3 linked regions of the Homo sapiens genome follow. The protein of the gene in region 1 interacts with the protein of each later gene in a biochemical or structural test. Each region holds a gene or a part of one and is shown on either strand. Other genes may lie near its edges.

The links. The genes of interacting proteins can lie anywhere in the genome.
Region 2: the proteins of LYN (region 1) and PAG1 form a complex in vitro, tested with the Homo sapiens proteins (one study listed by BioGRID).
Region 3: of the proteins of LYN (region 1) and CD22, one has a biochemical effect on the other in vitro, tested with the Homo sapiens proteins (one study listed by BioGRID).

Annotation. Positions count from the first base shown.
Region 1 is NC_000008.11:55,882,790-55,890,069, forward strand, and holds part of LYN (tyrosine-protein kinase Lyn), read left to right. Parts: intron 1-7,280. UniProt on the Homo sapiens protein: Non-receptor tyrosine-protein kinase that transmits signals from cell surface receptors and plays an important role in the regulation of innate and adaptive immune responses, hematopoiesis, responses to growth factors and cytokines, integrin signaling, but also responses to DNA damage and genotoxic agents.
Region 2 is NC_000008.11:80,968,799-80,976,078, forward strand, and holds part of PAG1 (phosphoprotein associated with glycosphingolipid-enriched microdomains 1), read right to left. Parts: 3' UTR 1-7,280. UniProt on the Homo sapiens protein: Negatively regulates TCR (T-cell antigen receptor)-mediated signaling in T-cells and FCER1 (high affinity immunoglobulin epsilon receptor)-mediated signaling in mast cells.
Region 3 is NC_000019.10:35,324,745-35,332,456, reverse strand, and holds the start of CD22 (B-cell receptor CD22 isoform 1 precursor), read right to left. Parts: upstream 3,271-7,712; 5' UTR 3,227-3,270; intron 439-3,226; 5' UTR 417-438; coding exon 383-416; intron 1-382. UniProt on the Homo sapiens protein: Most highly expressed siglec (sialic acid-binding immunoglobulin-like lectin) on B-cells that plays a role in various aspects of B-cell biology including differentiation, antigen presentation, and trafficking to bone marrow.

The DNA.
Region 1 (7,280 bases):
AAAGATTCAGGGGGTTGTCTAAGGTCACAGGCTTGGTTAAGCGGTACCATTAGGAGTAGTAGGTATGTTTTTTGGCTCTTTCTACTTGTCCACCTTTGGACTTGTAGTGTGTGCTCAATTACAAATGCCTCTCAACTTATGATGAGGCTGTGTCCCAATAAACCCAATCGTAAGTTGAAAATACTGAAAGTAGAAGATGCATTTAATACACTTAACCTACTAAACATTATAGATTAGCCTAACCTACCTTAAACATGGTCGAAACACTCACATTAGCCTACTGTTGGACAAAATCATCTGACACAAAGCCCATTTGATAATAAAGTGTTGAATAGCTCATGTAATTTATTGAATACTGTATTAAAAGTGAAAAATGAAATGGTTGTATGGGTACTTGAAGTACAGTTTTTATTGAATGCCTAATGCTTTTGCACCATCGTAAAGTTGAAAAATCATTAAGTTGCAGACCATCTGTGCTTAAAAGCAAATAAATAGGTCATTTAACAAACATTTTAAAAGTGAAATCATGAGTTAATTTTCTTTTATCACTTGGTAATTGTCTGAACTAAGTGGCTAACTGCTCAGGACATAGCAGATGCACCATCAAGCTGGGCACTTCAAGCTGTCTTCTAGAAATGAATTTCTGTGCTTTTTAGCACTGCTTTTTGCTTGGGGGTGGGAAAGGGTGGTCTCCAGTAACTGCTAAGATGACACCTATACTGGCTGCTGTCCGAGCAGCCCTAGTGACTGTCTTGGGGGCAATCAGTTGCTTAATGGTTAATACAGAAGTACCTGAGTAATACTTTGCAAAAGGACTTTCCCCGACCTGTGCTGGGAGTGTCTCCCTGTAAACTTTGCCAACCTCCTGGTTGTTTTATCAGTGAGAGCATCATTTAAGTGAAAATATAAATTAAGGAGACAGGGCTCATAGGACGCACATTAAAACACCTGATCATTTTGAGCACCTGCTGTGTGCAAGGCACTGTTCTAGGCCAACAGTATAGATATACATTGCCTCCCATCTTTTAAGGCTGATAATGAAGAGAAGAACATGGAAGAGGAAGTTGTTGGGTTTTTTTTTTCCAGTCAGAAATACTGAAAGATTTCTTACAGCTGTCTGGTTTCCTGATACTTAAATTGTGAAACTTTAAGTTCACTCCATTATCATTTCTAAAATTTATTTTGAATAAGTTCCCTTTCGGGGGAGATACCCATGTGTAGAGAATGGTATGGAAATCTGCCAATGGAGGGATTAGAAATTTTGTCAGTTTAAAGACTTGGACCTTTTGAGATTTTTGTTGTTGTTGTTTTGTTTGTTCTTCTTTTCTGAGATGAAGGCTCACTCTGTCGCCCAGCCTGGAGTGCAGTGGTGCAATCTCAGCTCACGGCAATCTCCGCCTCCTGGGTTCAAGCAATCCTCCCTGCCTCAGCCTTCTGAGTAGTTGGGATTACTTACAAGCATGTGCCACCACACCCAGCTAATTTTTGTATTTCCTGTAGAAATGGGGTTTCATCATGTTGGCCAGGCTGGTCTTGAACTCCTGACCCCAAGTGATCTGCCCGTCTCGTCCTCACAAAATGCTGGGATTACAGGTGTGAGCCACTGCGCCTGGCCTTTCTGGGGTATATTTGGCTTAAGTTAGTTGGAAGGGCTCTCTTTATTTTTTATTCTGCCTCCCACTGAAGAGACAGAGTTCGCTCTTGTCACCCAGGCTGGAGTGCTTTGGCGTGATCCCAGTTCACTGCACCTCCATCTCCTGGATTCAAGTGATTCTCCTGCCTCAGCCTCCCTAGTAGCTGTGATTACAGGCGCCCGCCACCATGCCTGGCTAATTTTTGTATTTTTAGTAGAGATGGGTTTCACCATGTTGGCCAGGGTGGTCTTGAACTCCTGACCTTAGGTGAGCCCGCCTCGGCCTCCCAAAATGCTGGGATTACAGGTGTGAGCCACCGTGCCTGGCCCTGTCTTGTAATTTAGAAGAGCAAGTTTAAATACTTGGGATGATGTATTAAAAAGCCTCATCCATGCTGACAAGAGCAGGGCCTGTAGTAGCCTTTGTTGTTTATCCCCTTCATCCTGTTCTGTACTTCATTTTCTCTCATTACTGAATTAGCTGGCAGCATTCCTTATTTGCCACAGAGCTATTTCTTAAAAGCTGTACTTACACTCAGGATACAGTTTTCCTTGGTATAGAACTCTTCCATGGCATTGCTCTTTCACTGAGCTTTATTAACCCTCAGGCTTCCAGTACCCCTTCTTCTGCTCTCCCCACTTCATTCCCTATCATCTTACAAAGGCTTCTTCAACCAGGAATTGGCATGAGCTGACCGTGTATGGGAAGAGATTGTCAGTTAACCTCATTATTGTAAATGCTCAGTGTTCAGAATGCTGCTACTTAAATGACATCCTATAGAACTGCATGAATCGGGATACATTTAAATAATCCAGTTAAGTGGCTGTTTCTTGATGGTTGAGGCTCTGCTTTTGGGTTGTAGAACACTGGGAAGAAGTCTTCACAGCTCAGATAGTTTTTTAGTTGGTCTCATTTCCTTTCTACAGTCCATGCTTCAGGCAAAGTTACATATTGCCTGCCTGCCCACACCTTTCTGTGAGCATCTGAAATCTTGCTCACTCCTCTTTATTGACACCAGACCATACTGGTTGGAAGCTTCTTTCCAGTCCCCGCTTTCCTCCCTCCATTGGTAAAACATCTGGTGGGGAGGTCTTCGTGTGGTCTTTGGGCCTACCCTTGGGCGCTGGTACAGTGAGACTGGAGAGATGGGTGTGTATTCATTCTGCCTCCCACTGAAGCAATGACGTCTTCTTGGTGTTTGGGTCTCTGGGTGCCCCCACTCTTCCTGTAAATGTTAACCCCCACGGAGGTGAGGGGAATGGAGAAGCTTATCTCAGAGAGGCTCTCTGGAGAGGGAGGACCACTTCTGCTTTCCAGGGGGAAGCTGTGTCACGGAGAGCAGAACTGTAGCCCGATGCTGGAGAGAAAAGGCCCCAGAGGAGGCAGGCAAGGAAGTGATACTTCCTCCACCCCAGGCCCCTGGGTCATTTGCCTGCAGCCCCACCTTCCTTACCACCCAATGCTGCGTTTTCCTCGGGGTTCTTTCTACCCTCTGCTGCCCTCTGCATTTTCGGTTTGCCCTTAAGTGAGGGGTGGGGCGGGGTGGGAGAGAGGAGCAGTCTAGAGTCTTAAGGGCAGAGCCTGCTTTGCGAAGCCCACCCTGGCCATGCCTGACTTTTTCAGCAACGGAAAAATGTACATTTTGAAATTCCCCGTCATGGAAAGTGTTATGAAACTCTTGGGTAGACGTTTCGAAATCTTTTAATGTTCAGGCTACATAATAATTTTTAAATACTAACTATAATAATTCAGGACTATTTTAAAAATTGTTAAATTCCTTGTTAAATTCTTGGGATAGAACAGTGGCTGTCAAACATCTTTTTTTTTTTTTTTTTGAGATGGAGTCTCGCTCTGTCGCCCAGGCTGTAGTACAATGGTGCAATCTCCACTCACTGCAACCCCTCCTCCCAGGTTCAAGCGATTCTGCTGCCTCAGCCTCCCGAGTAGCTGGGATTACAGGCATGCACCAATGCACCACCATGCCCGGCTAATTTTTGTATTTTTAGTAGAGACAGGGTTTCATCATGTTGGCCAGCCTGGTCTCGAACACCTGACCTCAGGTGATCTGCCTGCCTCGGCCTCCCAAAGTGCTGGGATTACAGGCATGAGCCACGCGCCCAGCCTGTCAAACTTATTTGACCACAACCCATAGCAAGAAACATTTTACCTTGTGCTCAAATACACATATCTGTAGGCAAAACAAAATAGAAAAAGGAAAATACAATCTGGTGGAACAGCCCCTCCCCTTAACTTGCAGGGGAATGTGGCCTGGAGCAGCTTTTCTGAGGTAGGATTGGCCAGCTCCATCAGAGTTTGTTTGTTCTGATGCATAATAGATATACATAGTTTCAGGGCACATGTGATAATTTAATACATCATATAATTTGTAAAGATTAAATCAGTATTTGCGATAGCCATCACCTTAAATATTTGTTTTCTTTTTAAATGCTGAATCTTTTGAATTCTTCTAGCTGTTTTGAAATGCACAATAGTTAATGGTGAACTCTAGTCACCCTACCAGGTCTTATTTCTTCTATCAAACAGTATATTTGTATCCATTAATCAACATATTTTCATCCCCCCTTCCAACGTACAGAGATGGGCAGTCCAATAGGGAGGTTTATTAAACAAACACAAATTAAGTCACATTCATATAATGGGATACTTTGTAAATATCTTAAAAGATAAAACATTCAATTACAGTTACTAATATGAAAAATTTTTTTTCAAAAGCTGAACACGGCCAGGCGGCCAGGCGCAGTGGCCCTTGCCTGTAATCCCAGCACTCTGGGAGCATGAGGCAGGAGGATTGCTTGAGCTCAGGAGCTCGAAATCAGCCTGTGCAATTTGTCTCAAACAAACAAACAATAGCAAAAGAGCTGAACACAAACTAGTAGATGACATGATACCATTTCTGAAATAAAATATTCATATATGGACACATCATCTATAAACTGCATTTCAAACAATTTTTATACTAAGATCTTAATAGTGATTATTTCTGGGTGACAGTTGAGTGCTGTTTTTACTTCTGTACGTCTTTATATTTAAAAGAATGAGCATCCCATATATACATAAATATATATATAAATCCCACATATAAATATATACATAAATCCCATATAAAAATATAAATATATATATATATATATACACACACACACACACACACACACACACATATATATATATTTTTTTTTTCCTGAGACAGAGTCTTGCTCTGTCACCCAGGCTGGACTGTGATGGTGTGATCTCGGCTCACTGCAACCTCCACCTCCCGGGTTCAAGTGATTCCTGTGCTTCAGCCTCCTGAGTAGCTGGAATTACAGGCACACACCACCATGCCCAGCTACTTTTTGTATTTTTAGTACAGACAGGGCTTTGCTGTGTTGGCCAGGCTGGTCTCGAACTTCTGGCCTCAAGTTATCCGGCTGCCTCAGCCTCCCGAAATCCGGGGATTACAGGCATAAGTCATTGCGCCTGGCTCCTTATATGATTTTAAAACGGCAGGATATAAGGAGCAATGGAATGAAGCCAGTGGGACTGCAGAAGGCAGGTGGAAGCAGACAGGGAACTTTGGAGCTAGAGTGACTTGAAGGACGCTTGATGGATATAATTGTAAGAGTCCTGTCTCAGGAGAGCTGATGCGCTGTAAATGTTGTAAATAGAACATTTTCTTAAAGAACCTTCCACTGCTATGTTTAGTATTCAGTTTAGCAAACTTTTCCTGGGTAGCTACTGGGAGTCCCGCACAGTGTTAGGAGTTGGGGTACACACCTGCCATGTTGGTGGAAATCCTGAAGGGAGTGGGCCACACACCCTGGAAGAAGGGGCTTTCCTGAGGAAGGACAGCCTGACTATGCAGGGGTCATTCCACATTACCAGAGCTTGTTCCAGAGAGGCAGTGGGAGGCTCCACAGGCAGGCTTGGAGGGTGCTTGGCCCTAATACTAAATGTTGGACTTCATGGCATTAACGAAGGGGAATCACTGGAGCCTTTTAGTATGAAGCTAATCTTTTTGTCCATCACAGGCAACTTCTTGCCTACACTCTTTTACAATATGGCATTTATGACATAGCCAAGAGCGAAGACACGTTGAACACTGACTTAATGCTTTGAGTAGGTGGAGAGTTGAATGACTCAAGGCTACTTCTCTAGAGATTAATTTGAAGCTAGAAAGTAACATTTATTTCTGTTTTCTGTGACAGCAATAGGCTTCAGCTTGTAATCGTCATCTGCAAGTAGGTACTTGACACCTCCCCTAAGTGACCTGGAGAGTGACAGATACAGTAATGGGCACAATCCTTGGTTTTTTGTTTTGTTTTGTTTTTGAGACAGAGTCTCACTCTGTCATCCAGGCTGGAGTGCAGTGGTACGATCTCACTCACCAGGGATTTGGCCACCACGCCTGGCCGAATCCCTGGTTTTAAGCAAAATTTTAATATGGAGTTTATGGTTGTTGGTATAATGAAATGCGGCACCATAGCAGTTGATTTTTGTCTTTCAGAACCACACTGGCTTTTTGTATTATTTCAAATTTGATAGATGCCCAATGTATGTAACAAAAATTTTCCCTCACGTGTATTTCTTTCTTTATTTATTTGTATGTTTTGAGATGGGGTCTCACTCTGTCGCCCAGGCTGAAGTGCAGTGGTGCTATCTCGGCTCACTGCAACCTCCACCTCCCAGGCCCAAGCCATCCTCTCACCTCAGTACTGGGTAGCTAGGATTACAGGCCCCGCCACCAGGCCTGCGTAATTTTTTTGTTTTTTGGGAGGCCAAGGCAGGAGGATAATTTGAGCTCAGGAGTTTGAGACCAGGCTGTAACCCCAGGCAGGAGTACAGTGGTGCAGTCATAGCTCACTGCACCCTTGACCTCCTGGGCTCAAGCCATCTTCCCACTTCAGCCTCCAAGTAGCTGGGACTACAGGTGTGTGCCACTATGCCTGGCTTATTTTTTGTAGAGATGGGGTTTGGCCATGTTGGCCAGCCTGGTGTCAAACTCCTAAGCTCAAGGGATCCACCTGCCTCAGCCTCCCAAAGTGCTGTGCTGGGATTACAGGCGTGAGCCACCACACCCAGCCCAAGTATATTTATCGAGTGCTGTATGTCATGATAGTGGGTGGTTTGGGGGAATACCAACATAAATAAGTGGGAGGTTTCTATCCTAGAGGAGTTTATTGTGCTCTGTTCTCTCTGGATTGTTCACAAACCAGAATGCCGATCAAAGACTTTGCTAGGGTTGTGGGTGGGCGACTTGCTCAGGAGATCCCTGGCACCCAAATGAGTGCCCAGAAATCACTCTGAATGGTCAAAAGTAAGGCAGGGCAGGGCGGTAGAGCACAGGGTGTCGAATTAATTTCATGTGGGGGCTGAAATCCCAGGTCTGTCCCTTCCTAACTGTGGGCTGCTGCTGGCAAGGTGCTGGCCTTGCTAGCCTCAGAGTCCTCATGTTTAAACCTCAGCAGTTTGTTGTGAGTGTTCTAGGTTACAGTGGATTCCAAACTAGCCACAAGTGAAGCACATGGCTAAATGGTAGTCATTGGTATTGTTATCAAAAGCAAGTTGCTTAGCTGGGTGAAGTGGCTCATGCCTATAATCCCAGCACTTTGGGAGCCTGAGACAGGTGGATTGCTTGAAGCCAGG
Region 2 (7,280 bases), about 25 Mb from region 1:
AATCTTTGAGATAATTTTTCTCATTTACACACATTTACTCAAGAGACTCAGAGTGGCAGATAGGGAATTGGGCCAACACATTTCTCAGAGAGACATGAGAACTGAGACACACAGGGGCAGCAAGTCTGAATTTTGCTCTCATCTCTGCTCCCTTCGCCCCACTAGAGTCAACTATACGGTTGATACTCGAAGCAAATAAAAAGATAATTTTTAAAAAGTGTCAAGGTCGCAAGCATACTAGAATGCTCACAAATGTTTGCTGACTTGAACGTAAGGTTCAGCTTTCCTGATGCTTTTCACATTGCTTCTCCTCAAGACATGAGCATTGCTGCAGGCATGGCCATCTTCCAGGACATGGGCGGGTAGTGGCACATAGGAATTAAATCCTAGCATGGCTCCAGGAAAAACAAGACAAGTACTATACTCAAAAAGTAAAGTTAAAAAAAGCAAGCATGCTTAAGGGATGGGTCATGAACACCACATCAGGTTCATTTATGAGTCTTATATTAAAAATACATAGAAGCTTGTCAAAGGAATGCTCAAAATCCTCAACCCATAGACTCAGGCTTTTGGTCCCAGCCTCTTCTTCCAGAGAAGGGCACTGCTGTCTTTCAGGGAAGCCTTCACTACCTAAATGAGGAGCTAAAGATTAAAAAAAAAATTCTCTTTAAGCTTAAGAAAAGGAAATAGTTTGCTTTAAACTCATGGTTTCCAACTTGTTGAGTTAAAAACAAACCAAACCAAACCAGGACATGACAACAAGATAGTTCTGAACTGTAGGCTCTAGGGAGCAACTGGTCCTTCTTTTAGCTTTAACTGTGTCCTATTTAGAGTGCCTAACAGGTATACTAGGGGAACTTTAAAAAACTAAATGTATAAAGAGAATGAGCAGAGATATCTGTTCTGCTAATTTTGAAAAAAAGTTACACTCTAAAATGTCCATTCAAAGAATTAACTGTGATGACTTACAGCAAAGTTTTACAAAACCAAATGAAACACCCTGGCTCCTGAAGTATGTAGAAAATGGGAACTTCAGCAGCTGCACCTCCAATTCACCTATCCTAGGACCTAGAAGGTGCTTGGTTTCTCACTCCAAAGTCAGGCAGTTTGCTATAAATGGCCAAGTTATTCTCCTTATCTGGTAGCTCTACCTTTGCATGCTGAAGCACTCACAGTTTTCTTAGGTCCTGGGGGATCAGAGCAAACTGGCTGTAACTTGACATCATCCTTAGGCACTGTTTCCTGGGGGAGAGGGTGCAATGGCTTCATGGTGAAAACATTTTACACTCAATTTACTTTAAAAAGGTTTTTTTTTTGTTTTTGTTTTTGAGATGGAGTCTTGCTCTGTCGCCCAGGCTGGAGTGCAGTGTTGCGATCTCAGCTCATTGCAACCTCTGCCTCCCAGGTTCAAGTGATTCTCCTGCCTCAGCCTCCTGAGTAGTTGGGACTACAGGCACATGCCACCATGCCTGGCTAATTTTTTTTGCATTTTTAGTAGAGACAGGGTTTCATCATGTTGGCCAGGCAGGTCTCAAACTCCTGACCTCAAGTGATCCACCTGTCTCAGCCTCCCAAAGTGCTGGGATTACAGGCATGAGCCACTGCACCCGGCCTAAAAATGATTACTTCTTATAAAAAGGATTTCTTCCCCTTCACAACACTCAGCTTCCTTTTTCTTTCCTGGTAACTATGGGTCTGGTGTTGTCATAAGGATCTACCTTCCACATGCTGGACAGTGGGGGTTGCTGCTTGAGGAGACTCAGGCCAGATACAGATCACTGTGGGGAACACTAAGCTTACTTGGTTAGAGCACGGCACTAACATTTCTGCCTCTGTGAGTTTGATTCCACCACATAATTTTTTAAAAGTGCTTTTCCATGGCCCCTTAGTGTCAACCATTCTTACGAAAGATGTGAGCAACAGTGTACATGTTTTGGCAAAAGTCGTGACAAATAGCACCAGCATCTGCCGCCCTAGGTGGACCTGTGGCCTCATCTTGGCAGCCTGTGAGTTGGGCAGAGCTGTGACGAGGCATGGTTCTGTGCCGGCTGGCAGGGTCTGTGATATGGCAGCACTGTGATCCGTACTGGAAAGACATAATGGCATGTCCTGTGAACAGCAGATACAGAAGGCTGAGTGGGGAAGCGACCCAGGGGTATTGCCACACAAAGCGATAGGCCAGCTAAGTACCAGGAGACAAACTGAGGTGGGAGGAAATAGTGACTTCATGGCCTCATTCTTTAGACTTACTCCTTAAAAGGACTAGATCCGGGGAGGGAAAAGTAATCACAAAATGTTCAAGCTAATAAGAGATATTTTTGGTCTTAAAACTAAGGTTTAAAAATTCCCAGTACTGAAAACAACTTTCTCACTCTTTTGTGAATTGGACAATTTGACCATTATGAAGATCTTTTGAAACAATCAATGAAAATGCTACTAAGTGTCATGAATTATTTTTTAATATTTTTGAGTAAGGGGAGTACTTTAATACTGATTGGGCCCATGTAATAGACAATATGTCACTTTTGGTGTAACTATTTTTATGAGGAAAAAACATTAACAATGAAATGCCAATTCCTATTTATAACAGACCTTTTTTGTTTAGATATATTTCAAGTTTCCCCAGAAAATATGAGGCATGTTAATACAACACAATTATTTAAAAGGTAACAACATTAAAACATTTTACTGCTGCCAATGTAACATACAGACATCTGAGAAATGACAATTATCAACCTTTGTAATACATGATTACGCAAGGTGATATGAGACAACCCAAGGGTAGCACATTTTAAAAAATACCCACAGTATATAACTGGCAAGCCAAAAAAACTTCCTGTATTAACAGAAATGATTACTGAATTGAACGCTTTTTAAAAAATGTCTTTTAAGCAAAAATTGTATTTCTCTTTTCATGTTACATTAAGAATTTGGAATATTATTTTTCAGTTAAGTCAAAGAAGAACTTGAAAAAAATAATGACATACTTCACAAATAGTAGAGACTAGATGTAAACACAGACCTAAAAATGAGCAGTAGGATAAAAAAAACCATGAATGTTTGTTCTCTTCTGGACCATGATTTTAAATTTTAATTTGGTAATTCCAGATAAAGATTCTAATTTATCATGGTTTCTGGACTGATCTCTTTAAGTTAAACACTTTCAGTCTAAGTGTGTTCAACTGGCCTAAAGCCACTGTCAGGAAAAATGTATTTAGGAAAATATACAACACAGGGCAAGAAAATACTACTGTAGAATAAGGAATTTAGATTTCACTGCAAATAAAGCCATATTTGATATTAAAGACACATGTTCCTATTTTCACATCAGTCATTTATTAACACCAAACATTATACTTTAACTTTTCCCCATTACACAGTACAATAAGCCTGTCAAGATTTCCAGGAAGTAATCATCAGTACCTACTGTGCTTCCAGCAGCCAAAGCTAAGCTGGCTGGGTACCAGAAATCAACACCTTCAGGAGAATGGCATCACAAGATTGCATGGACTCATATTAACTATTACAAGGGGCACTGGAAAAAAAGGTCATTTGCTCATTTACAAAATCCTAATTGAACTAAAGCTCTGTAATTATAGCCATGGTATCAGACCAGCTTTTTCGCACATCCTATCACATCGCTGCCTGCTGATGTTTTACACTGCCTATAAAGTCTCATAATTTTAAAAGGGAATGAAACAGAATGCCACAGGTGACCGACCTCTGCTCCTGCTACTTGGGAGTCACGTTGTCTTGGCTTCGTCCTGGCTCAAGGTTACTAGTCTCTTGCTGCTTTGGGCCAAATCTCTTATCTCTTTACATTTCCTCCTCTCAGGCTGAGTCAAAAGTAAGTCACATGTATAACAAAACTGTCTTAAAATACCACTGTTTTTCAGCCAAGAGAATTACGGATGCAATTTAAAGTCTAAATGTATTAATTGGAAAAATTAAATTAGAGCAACTCAAGGTTTTCCTGTAATTACCAAATGAAACTGATTGAAAAACTGTTCCTTCTAATTCTGCTTTTCCAACAAAAGTTCATCACACTAGCAGGATAAACATTCAAAATACATAATAGAACATATCCTAATTAAGCACCAGAGTTGTGTCAGAGCCAAGTATATACACACACACACGTATACGTGTGTGTGTGTGTGTGTGTGTGTGTAGTTTATTACTGGTTAAGTAAATGCTCTAATTAGCAAAAATCATGAGAAATATATACAGTGATATAATGCGGTTAAATTTTAGTTCTCTGTGTTAACTACTTACTGTTAATTTAGTACTCAATTAGAATTAACTCTGGGATTTTGAGGGCAGATAAATCAGTAATTAGCCTTTATCCCAGAAAGAATAGTGGTAGCTTCAAAAGCTTCAACAGACCTAATGATGTAATTTATTCAGGACAGAAAAAAAAATATGTAGCCAACATTCTTGCAAGAATTACTTTCTTATGGAATTTAAGATTTCCTCAAATATTTTCTTTTCTATATAGCGTTTTGTTCTTGTGTAGTTATCTGCCTAGGATACAGACAGGATATTGAGACTATTTCAGAAAGTAGACACACTAAAAACATTTGACAAATTAAAAAAATTTTGCATAAAACAGGTTACCCTTTCCTGCTGACTATACTTAAGAAATACCAAAGTAGCATACAAAATGCTTCTAAACTTTCAAAATATCTGAATAAAAACAAAGATCCTACTTTTAACTGAGATAGATTTATAATTCTTACTTACAAGATAAAAAAATTTCCTAAAATTTATTTTTAAATTTCACATAACCTGCTATAATTCGCTGTAAAAAATGGATGTCAAAATAGAATTTTAAATATACAAATTGTTTTTGATAACTACCTTTCATACATTTTATTTAAACTGTAGCATTAGCTCAAGATGAAACTTTTTAAAAGAAACCATAGGCTTTTGTCCAACTCAAAGATTCAAGCCCAGATTCTGAACAAAGTAAATGTGATGAAATTTATGAAAAACTATACTGTACAGTCAAAACAGTGATGGTGCCTCAGTAAATAACTTCAGTAAAATATCCAGTGCTCCAAATAGCTGAGCCATCTTTCTAAGGTTCACTCTGCTTCTCTCCCCCAGCCCTCATGGCCTGTGCTACCATCTATTCTTTTAGCGTTTATGCTGGAGGGCCTTATAGTTCCTTTAAAAGTACACTGAAAATACTTTATATCACAGCTTATTCTAACCACTGGTTCTCAAATTAAAAGGTATATTTCAGTGCATATTTCATAGCCACATTGCAGAACTAATATTTGAAAACTCTTGGGGGAAATTTTGGTAACAAAATTGCAAAATGACATGATTATTTATGAGCTTTCTATAAAAAGTTTTTTTTTTTTTTTTTTTTTTACTTTAGAGATCATACCTACTTTCCTGCCTTTTTGATAAGTAAGGCATGAAATGAAACAAAAGTTTTGAGCTGTAAGGTGCCTATAAAGGATGTCACTACAGCATTCACAATGCTAGGTGTGTAAGATGACATGGCTGTTACCATGTACTAAAGAACCCCATCATGTGAGAGATCGCTCAAAGTCATTAACACAAAGCAGTGAAAATCATCCAGCAAAGCAGTGCTTATGAGAGACTAGAATTCAGAGAAATGCAAGGTACGAACTTCTCTCTAATCCAAGGGTATTCTGCTGTGATCTTCTAATCAGTGATGATTGTGCTTATGCACACGACATCTTCATGGGAGAGACCAGGCTGATTGCAAAATAATGACAACCAACCAGTTTACCTCAACATAGCTCACTCTGCAATGTCAGACATGCAGTGTAGAGCAGTCACAAAGTCAAGCCATGAATACAGGGATGGAAAAACATTCCAGTGAGCTGGTCTCTACAATTTTTAAGACACTTCATCCTCCCAATTATATTCTTTGTCATAAAGAGGAAAAACAGCAAGATTATTAAATCCAAAAAGTCACAGATGTCACAAGGGGATGAAATAATTTCCTCATTTTTTTTCTTTATCAGTGTAGGAAAAGCTGTCTTTCCATAGCCCACACTCATAATAGCACTTCAACTAGGCTCCTTTGAAAATGAAAAGTGAACAAGTTTCCTAATGCTGGCCTTATAAGATCTAAAGAGATGATTAAATTCAAACCAGGCTGAGCTCTTACTCTGAGCTATTTCAGCCACTGATGTTTGTAAAATATAGGAAGAAGATTCCAATAGGCAATTTGCATTGGCAAGCACTGGACTACAGAATTCATCACTGTTTTCTGAAAAAATATAATTAAACCTTAATGGAATTATGACACTTTTATGAGGTTTATAATTCACAGCCACCTCTCATCATATTTTGTTCTTCTTTCCATTTTTACCATTTCAAATATTGCAATATTGCCCACCATAAACCACTGAAAATGATTATTTATGTATATTCCATTTATTTCTCTAGGGGGTCTAGGTAATTTGAATCAGGAGCTCCAAGTACCATTTAAAAAGGTGAGTCTTTAAAAACCATCAGTGTTTTAAACACTTGATTAGAAAAAAGATAACAGCTCCTTGTAGTGATCTAGCTTATGTGCTTTATGGTATCTTTTCAAAAGGAGAGTATAAATCATTGTACATAAAATCAAAATAGCTAATATACATTTTTTTCTGGCACTTTTGAGAAATTAGGCATTGAACATAAAACATCTTATAAACTTACATAACAAAAATAAATGTTTACATTTTAATCTTAGATTACCTTAGGGTAGCAGTTAACTTATGAGATGCCACACTGTTGGTGTGGGCAGCGGAGACCATGGGAAATACACATTCATGTCCACAGCCCTTCAGCGATGGATGCATGGCTGCCGTCCAAATATGTGGTCTGTGTCCCAACATAAAGATTAAGGCTCTCTGTTTTGAAGGAATGAGTTCTGGGCTTAAACAAGTCTAGAAGTACCACAATACTCATGGAAAATACTGAAAAGATTCGGACGAGTTTTCAAACACTGGGGGAAACACGTTTTTGACTAGAAAAATAAAATAAAGCATCTAAAACTGACTTCAAGTACTTTGGGGAGAGGCTGCTGATATCGAATGCCAAAATAAGAAGGAACAAAGACAGAAGAGACTCCAGGGACGTCCCTCCCCATCCCTTCACCCGCAGGGTCCAGATCCCCAGGTGCTGATGCGCAACTCTTTGGGGAGGACTGGCGAGCTGGGCAGAAAGCAGCAGCCATGGTTTGTCACCATCCTAAAACACCTATATTGAGGGCAAAGGCCAAGCTTTGTGTGAAAATTTCCTTGGGATGAACC
Region 3 (7,712 bases), on another chromosome or scaffold:
ATTCTTTTTAGAGATAGGGGTCTTGCTATGTTGTCCAAGCTGGCCTTGAACTCCTGACCTCAAGTGATCCTCCCACCTCAGCCTCACAAAGTGCTGAGATTTCAGGCATGAGCCACTGCACCCAGCAGAGAGCTTTCTAAAGACTAAAGAATTCCCTCTGAAGATAGTGGGAGAAATACAGAGATACACAAAGACAGCAGGATGCAATGAGAGAAGTGTATGTATATATGGGAAACATATATATTTGTATGTACATTTATCTATACACACCGCTGCCCCCACCCTACCCTATGTTGACGCCTCTCTGCCTGGGTCTTTCCTCCTCCTCCAGTGCCCACTGACATCCCAGAACCCCAGTACTAGCCCAGGCCACAGTCCTTACCCAGGAGCAGGAGCCAGGGGCCGAGGAGATGCATGGTGTCGTGTCTGGGTGCAAGCCTGAGCAGGGGAGAGTTTGTCTTTGAGCCATCTGGCCGCTTACTTCTTCCACGTGGCTTTTCTTGCTCACCCACTGAGCTCCGACCCTTCCCCTGGATCCGGGAGGACCGGGTCTGGTTGCATTATGGGGATGTGGCATTTGGGATGCTCACGGAGTTCTTTCTTTTTTTTTGAGACAGAGTCTTGCTCTGTCTCCCAGGCTAGAGTGCAGTGGTGTGATCTCCGCTCACTGCAACCTCTGCTTCCCAGGCTCAAGCGTTTCTCTGGCCTCAGCCCCCCAAGTAGCTGGGTAAAGGCAGGTGCCACCACGCCTGGCTGATTTTTGTATTTTCAGTAGAGATGGGGTTTCACCATGTTGGCCTGGCTGGTCTTGAACTCCTGATCTCAGGTGATCTGCCAGCCTTGGCCTCCCAAAGTGCTGGCACTACAGGTGTGAGCCACCACTCCTGGCCGGGAGTTTTTTCTGAGTGTGCTGCACCTCTCCTTCAAACTGAGAGCCCTGCGGGGGCAGCCTCTCTCTCTTCCCAGAACTCCTTCCTTTCTTCCTTCCTTCCTCCCTTGCTTGCTTTTTCCCATCCATCCATTCATCCATCTCTAATTTTATAAACTTCCTGCCTGGCTCACAGGCTTTGAGTGGCACCAGACCACTGAGTGCTTTGAATGCCAGGCCCCGGGTAACGTGGAGCTCTCTCTGGTGCTACTCATCAAGGATTATACTCAGGGACAGACATGGTCAAAACTTGGTTTGAAAGACCAGGTAAAAAGGAATTCTAAAACCAGTAACAAAGTATGGGTGAGCCAGGCGCAGTGGCTCACACCTGTAATCCCAATACTTTGGGATGCCAAGGCAGGCAGATCACTTGAGGTCAGGAGTTCAAGACCAGCCTGGCCAACATGGCAAAACCCCATCTTTACTCAAAATGCAAAAAATTAGCCAGGCGTGGTGGCGTACACCTGTAATCCCAGATACTCATGAGGCTGAGGCAGGAGAATTGCTTGAACCCGGGAAGTAGAAGTTGGAATGAGCCGAGATCATGCAACTGCACTCCAGCCTGGGCGACAGGGCAAGACCCTGTCTCAAAAAGATAAAAAATAAACTAAAAATGTACAGAGCTGGTCAAACAAAACCTATCTGTGGGTTAGGTTCTGCAACTGTTGCCCATCTTTCTTTCTTTCTCTGCAGTGAGCTTGTCCTCTACCATCCCTGACCTCTGCATAGAGTTATATTTACATAGAGTTAAATTTAAGTCCCAATTTACATGATCATGGCCCTCCGTGCTGGCCCCCGGGGACCCTGAAGGATGTGACAGCAGAGTGTGTCTCCGGTCTCAGCACCAACCCAAGCCCCTCCCACTCACCTGCCAACATTTCACACGCATCAATGTTCCTCTCTCTGTCTGTTTATCTCCTCGGGCCACATGGCTCATGCCAAAGGCTGCTGGGTATCTGTTCATGGGTGTGCGGAAAGCTAAGCTGCTTGCCGACAGCAGGAAGGGGGTCTGGCCTGGGCTAAGCATGAATTTGGGGTGCAGGGTCTGAAGCTGAGGCAGATTCCCCAGGCAGAGCTGACATCAGCCCCGCAGGTACTCATCATGTCACATGCAAAAAACATCTTCAAGGTCACATACACTTGAGAAAGGCAGGGTAAAAGAGTTAAGTAAGATTCTTTTTTTTTCTTTTGAGACAGAGTCTCATTCTTCTGTCGCCCAGGCTGAAGTGCAGTGGTGTGATCTCAGTTCACTGCATCCTCTGCCTCCAGGGTTCAAGTGATTCTCCTGCCTCAGCCTCCTGAGTAGCTGGGACTATAGGCATGTGCCACCACACCCGTCTGATTTGTTTGTTTGTTTGTTTGTTTTAGTAGAGATGGGGTTTCACCATGTTGGCCAGGCTGGTTTCAAACTCCTGACCTCAGGTGATCCCCCCAACTTGGCCTCCCAAAGTGCTGAGATGACAGGCGTGAGCCACCGCACCTGGCTTAAGTAAGATTCTTTACTGCAGGACTTTAAAAACCTTTCAGTAAACTCTATCTACACCATTAATCTCTAGACATGGGGATTAGAGTATAGTATAATACATTGTCCATACTTCTTTGGCCATGGGATCTATTTTACATGTTCCATAAAAAACTTAGCAGGGTTGCAGAGCCAGAGTTCTTTGAAATCCCCTTAAGGTTACCTAAGGGGTAACAAGGGCTGTGGCAAGGACTAGACTCCGTTCCCTGCAGCCAACACTTGCCTCCAGGAGCCGGGCCATTGTCCCTCCTCTGCCAGCACCCTCCAGCCACAACCTGCTCTGGGACGGGCTGGAGCATCCCAGCATGAGTGGGAGATGGGCGCCTCCAGAGCAGGACTGTGTGCTGCCTCAAGGAGCTCCAGGAGTCTCTGGAGCACAGGAGTAGGGCCCCAGGCCCGGGAATTGGAAGGCTGAGGGTGGGGTGGAGGTTAGGGACAGCAGTTATTATGCACAGAGGCTCAGGACAGGGCCATGCTGTCCAGACCTCCTCAGTCCAGGCCTGTTGAGGGCCTTGCAGAACCTTGGGGCTGACCTCCCTGGCTCCTTCTTCCCTCCTGGGCATCCAATAACCTACCCTACTCTCAGAAGACTCAGCAGGCCTGGCAAGGAGGATGCTCAAGACAGGGGTCTGTCTACAACCTGTTGTAACACCGGTAAGAGAGAGCCAGGGAGGTCCCCACTGTGTTCCCAGCTCTGGGAGGTATGCCTGGCCCATAACTGCTGTTCCGTAATAACTTGCTTGTTGAATGCAAAATAAAAGCAAAATGATTTTTACCTGTTTCCGCGTGTCTTCCCTCTTCAGGGACCCTGGCAGCATCTGAGAGCAAAAGGAGAAGTACAGTAAAGTCTCTGGTGACAGAGGTTTCCCCTCCATGGCCACACCCCCTGCTTCTCTATGGCTCTGAGGGGGACCAAGCAGCACCGTGATCTGGGGAGTGGGGAAAAGAGACGATTGAGGGGGATGCGGGCTCGGAGTCAGATTGGAAGACTCGAATACGTATGGGCAGTTCTTCCTTTCCGTGTATGGGTTTGCAATATCAGATCAGTTTCAGAATGGGCTCCTCCACAACTCCCCCTCTACCCAGCTCTCAGGAAATGCGAATGACTCAAGCCAAGCAGGAGAACTGCAGCCCGCTGAAAAAGGCACAGGCCTACCTGAAAGTATTTGTAGTTTAGTGACACCATCCAGTTATTACCATTTCCACTCTTTTCATCATAGGCATAAATGGTGGGGAATCTGACCACCTACACTGAAGCCCCCAAGGGTTGAGGGAGGAGCACATAGATATTGAGGAGGAAAAAGATATCTCGGCCGGGTGCGGTGGCTCATGCCTGGAATCCCAACACTTTGGGAGGCTGAGGCGGGTGGATCACTTGAGGTCAGGAATTCGAGACCAGCCTGGCGAACATGGTGAAATTCCGTCTCTACTAAAAATACAAAAAATTAGCTAAGTGTTTTGGCAGGCGCCTGTAGTCCCAGCTACTCAGGGGGCTGAGGCAGGAGAATCACTTGAGCCCAGGAGGCGGAGGCTGCAGTGAGAAGAGATCACACCACTGCAGTCCAGCCTGGGTGACAGAGTGAGACTCTGTCTCAAAAAAAAAAAAAGAAAGAAAGAAAGAAAGAAAGAAAAAGAAAAGATATCTTGTAGGACTGGGCATGGTGGCTCATGCCTGTAATCCTAGCGCTTTGGGTGGCCAAGGCGGGTGGATTGCCTGAGCTCAGGAGTTCAAGACCAGCTTGGGCAACATGGTAAAACCCCATCTCTACTAAAAAAAAAAAAAAAAAAAATCCAAAAATTAGCTGGGTGTGGTGGCGGGCGCCTGTGGTCCCAGCTACTCAGGAGGCTAAGGCAGGAGAATCACTTAAGCCCGAGAGGCTGAGGTTGCAGTGAGCAGATCGCGCTGTGGCACTCCAGCCTGGGTGACAGAGCCAGATCCTGTCTCAAAAAAACAAAAAAGATATCTTGTAGGAAGTGTTATTGAATGGAGAGTCTTTAGGCTGAAACCTCATCACCTTTATAATCCTGTAGCCAGCGAGTGTCTCAGGAGCAGAACAGACAGCATTGGAAGCCATGCACATCCTACAGATGAAGAGGGATGCGCTGAGAGGTCTTCACTCCAGCACCACTGCCCTCTATGGGCAGCTGGCCATAGGGAGGGAAACAGAGAGAGGGAAGAACACCTTCTTCCAAAAGCACCGATAGGGCTGGGTGTGGTGACTTATGCCTGTAATACGCTTTGGGAGAGCAAGGCAAGAGGATTGCTTAAGGCCAGAAGTTTGAGACCAACCTGAACAACACAGCAAAACTCTGTGGGGCTAGTCAACAAAAGCAAAAAATGAAAAGTAGCTGGGCATGGTGGCCCATGCCTGTGGTCCAAACTACTTGGGAGGCTGAGGCAGGAGGATCGCTTGAGCCTGGGAGTTCAAGGCTTCAGTCAGCCATGATAGCACCACTGCACTCCAGCCCAGGCAACAAAGTAAGACCTTGTCTCAGTAAATAATAAATAAATAAAATGAACAAAAAGCAGTGATGTTCTGGAAAGATGGAGTAGATGTATTTATTTATTCTGCCAAGTATAACTGAAAACCTTGAACGTGACAAGACAAGCATAAGAAGACTGAAAGATGGAGAGAAGCAGACTGGTTAGGAACCTCGGGACTTAAGGAATGGTGGTGAATTCCCTGGGATTTCTCTTTGCCTCATATATCTCAGGCTGAATACTGGAGAAGCCAACAACTGAAAATGCCAAGGGGCACAAACAAGAAAAAGTCCCAACAGAACAAGTTCTAGCAAAACTATGCTTTTCTAGCCAAAGAACGAGGAAAGGGGCATCCTAGAAAGACAGAGCTCTTTTAGTCCATACCTGCTCCGCTCCATCCAAGTTCCATCATCACCCTTGTCAGCAAAGGCCGGATGGAAAACCTAGACATTCACCTTCACCAGGCTGTAACAAAGAACCCTAGGCCACTCCCATACTCAGCCAGAGTGATGCTAGAGTTGGAGCTGGGACATTCCTCCCCACTGGGATCACCCTCCCCCGATGTGGTGTTGGTGGAAACCATGTGGGCAGCCTGGACATCCACTGCCACCCCAATGCAGAAATGAGGCATTCCACCCGGCCCCATTGGAGTAGTGTCAAAGGGGGCCTGGTGGAGAGTTGGGACTTTCGCCACCACTCAGTGGTAACAAGCACCCCCCTCTCTCTGCCACACACAGTGTCAGTGAAAGCCACATAGGGAGCAGTAATGAAGCATCCCTCCCACTCCCAGCCAGGGAGTTGTCATGGATTCCTAGTGGGGAACCTGAACTTCTACCCTTACCAAACAATAACATGGAGGCCTCATCTCTCCCAACCCCCCAGGTTCAGGAAAGGCTGGATGGAGAACCTGGACTTTTATCCCTGTCTGGAAGCAATCAGGCAGTGCCCTACTTTATTTCGCTGGAGCAGTATAAAGGGAAGCCCACTAAAACAAAATATTTAAAGAAGATCCAGAATCTTATAACACAGTGCCCAGAATATCCTGACTTCAATGGCAAATCACTTGTCATACTAGGAATCAGGCATTCTCAAACTGAATAACAAAAGATAATTAACAGACACAAACATCAAGACGACACAGATGTTAGAATTATCTGACAAAGATTTTGGAGCAGCCATCATAAAAGTGTTTCACTGAGAAATTATAAATGTGCTTGAAACAAATAAAATAATAAAAAGTATCAGCAAAGAAATAGAAAATATAAAGAAGAACCAAATGGAAACTTTAGAACTAAAAAATACAACTAAAAAATACAAGAGCTGAAATAAAAACCATAATGGATGGGCTCAATAGCAGAATGGAGAGTATAGAAGAAAGAAGCAGTGAAACAAAACGTATAACAATAGAAATTACCCATTCTGAACAATGGAAAGAAAATAGATGAAAGAAAATGGAACAAAGCCTCAAGGACATGAGTAACTATAATAAAAGAAGATCTAACATTTTGTCATTGAAGTCCCAGAAGGGGAGGAAAAGGAGGGTGGGCCTTAAAAAAATATTCCAAGAAGTAATGGCTGCAAATTATCTTCATTTGACAACACACACGCACAACATATGTCTACAGATTCAAGAAGCTGAGCGCATCACAAACAGGATAAACCCAAAGAAATTCATGCCAAGACACATCATAGTCAAACTTCTAAAAACAAGAGGCAGAGAAAATTCTCGAAAGCAACCACATAAAAATGCAAAAAATTAGCCAGTTGGGTGGTGCGTGCCTGTAGTCCCAGCTACTCAGGAGGCCAAGGCAGGAGGATCACTTGAACCTGGGAGGCGGAGGTTGCAGTGAGCTGAGATCCTGCCACTGCACTCCAGCCTGGGCAACAGAGCGAAACTCTGTCTTAATTAAAAAGTAAAATAAAATAAAAACAAAAAACCTCTGGAAGATAACATAGGAGAAAATCTGTGAGACTTAGAGCTTGATGAAGTGTTCTTAGACATGACACCAAAGGCATGATCCCTAAAAAAATCAATCCAACTTCATCAAAATTAATTTTTTTTTGCTCTGTAAAAGACCTAGTTAAGAGAATGAAAAGACAAATTACAGACTAAGAGAAAATATTTGCAAACCACATATCTGACAAAGGACTCCTATCTAGAACAAATATATAAAGAACTCTCAAATTCAACATAGAAACACTACATAAAAAAATCAAATCATCCAATTAGAAGACTGGCAAAAGATATAAAGAGAAATTTCACCCAAGGGGATATATGGATAGAAAATAATTATCTAAAAAGATATTCAACATCACTAGCCTTTAGACAGGTTAAGACCATGATGAGATATCACTACTAACATCTATAAGAACAGCTAAAATAAAAGATAGTATCAAATACTGGAAAGATGTATGGAAACTAAATCATTTATATATTGCTAGTGTGAATATAAAATTGTCCAGCCACTCTGGAAAAAAGTCTCAAAACAGTTCCTCCAAAGATTAAGCATAGAATTACCATACACTCCTGCATCTCCACTCTTACATATATAACCAAGAGAAATAAGAACATGTTCACCCAGAAACTTGAACACAAATGTTTACAGCAGCATTATTCATGAAAGCCAAAAAGCAGAAACAACCCACATGTCCATGAAGAGATGAATGAATAAAGAAAATATGGGAGACCTAAACAATAAAATATTATTTGATAATAAAAAGGAATGAAGTACTGATAGATACTACAACATGGATGAACTTTTTTTCGAGACCGAGTTTCA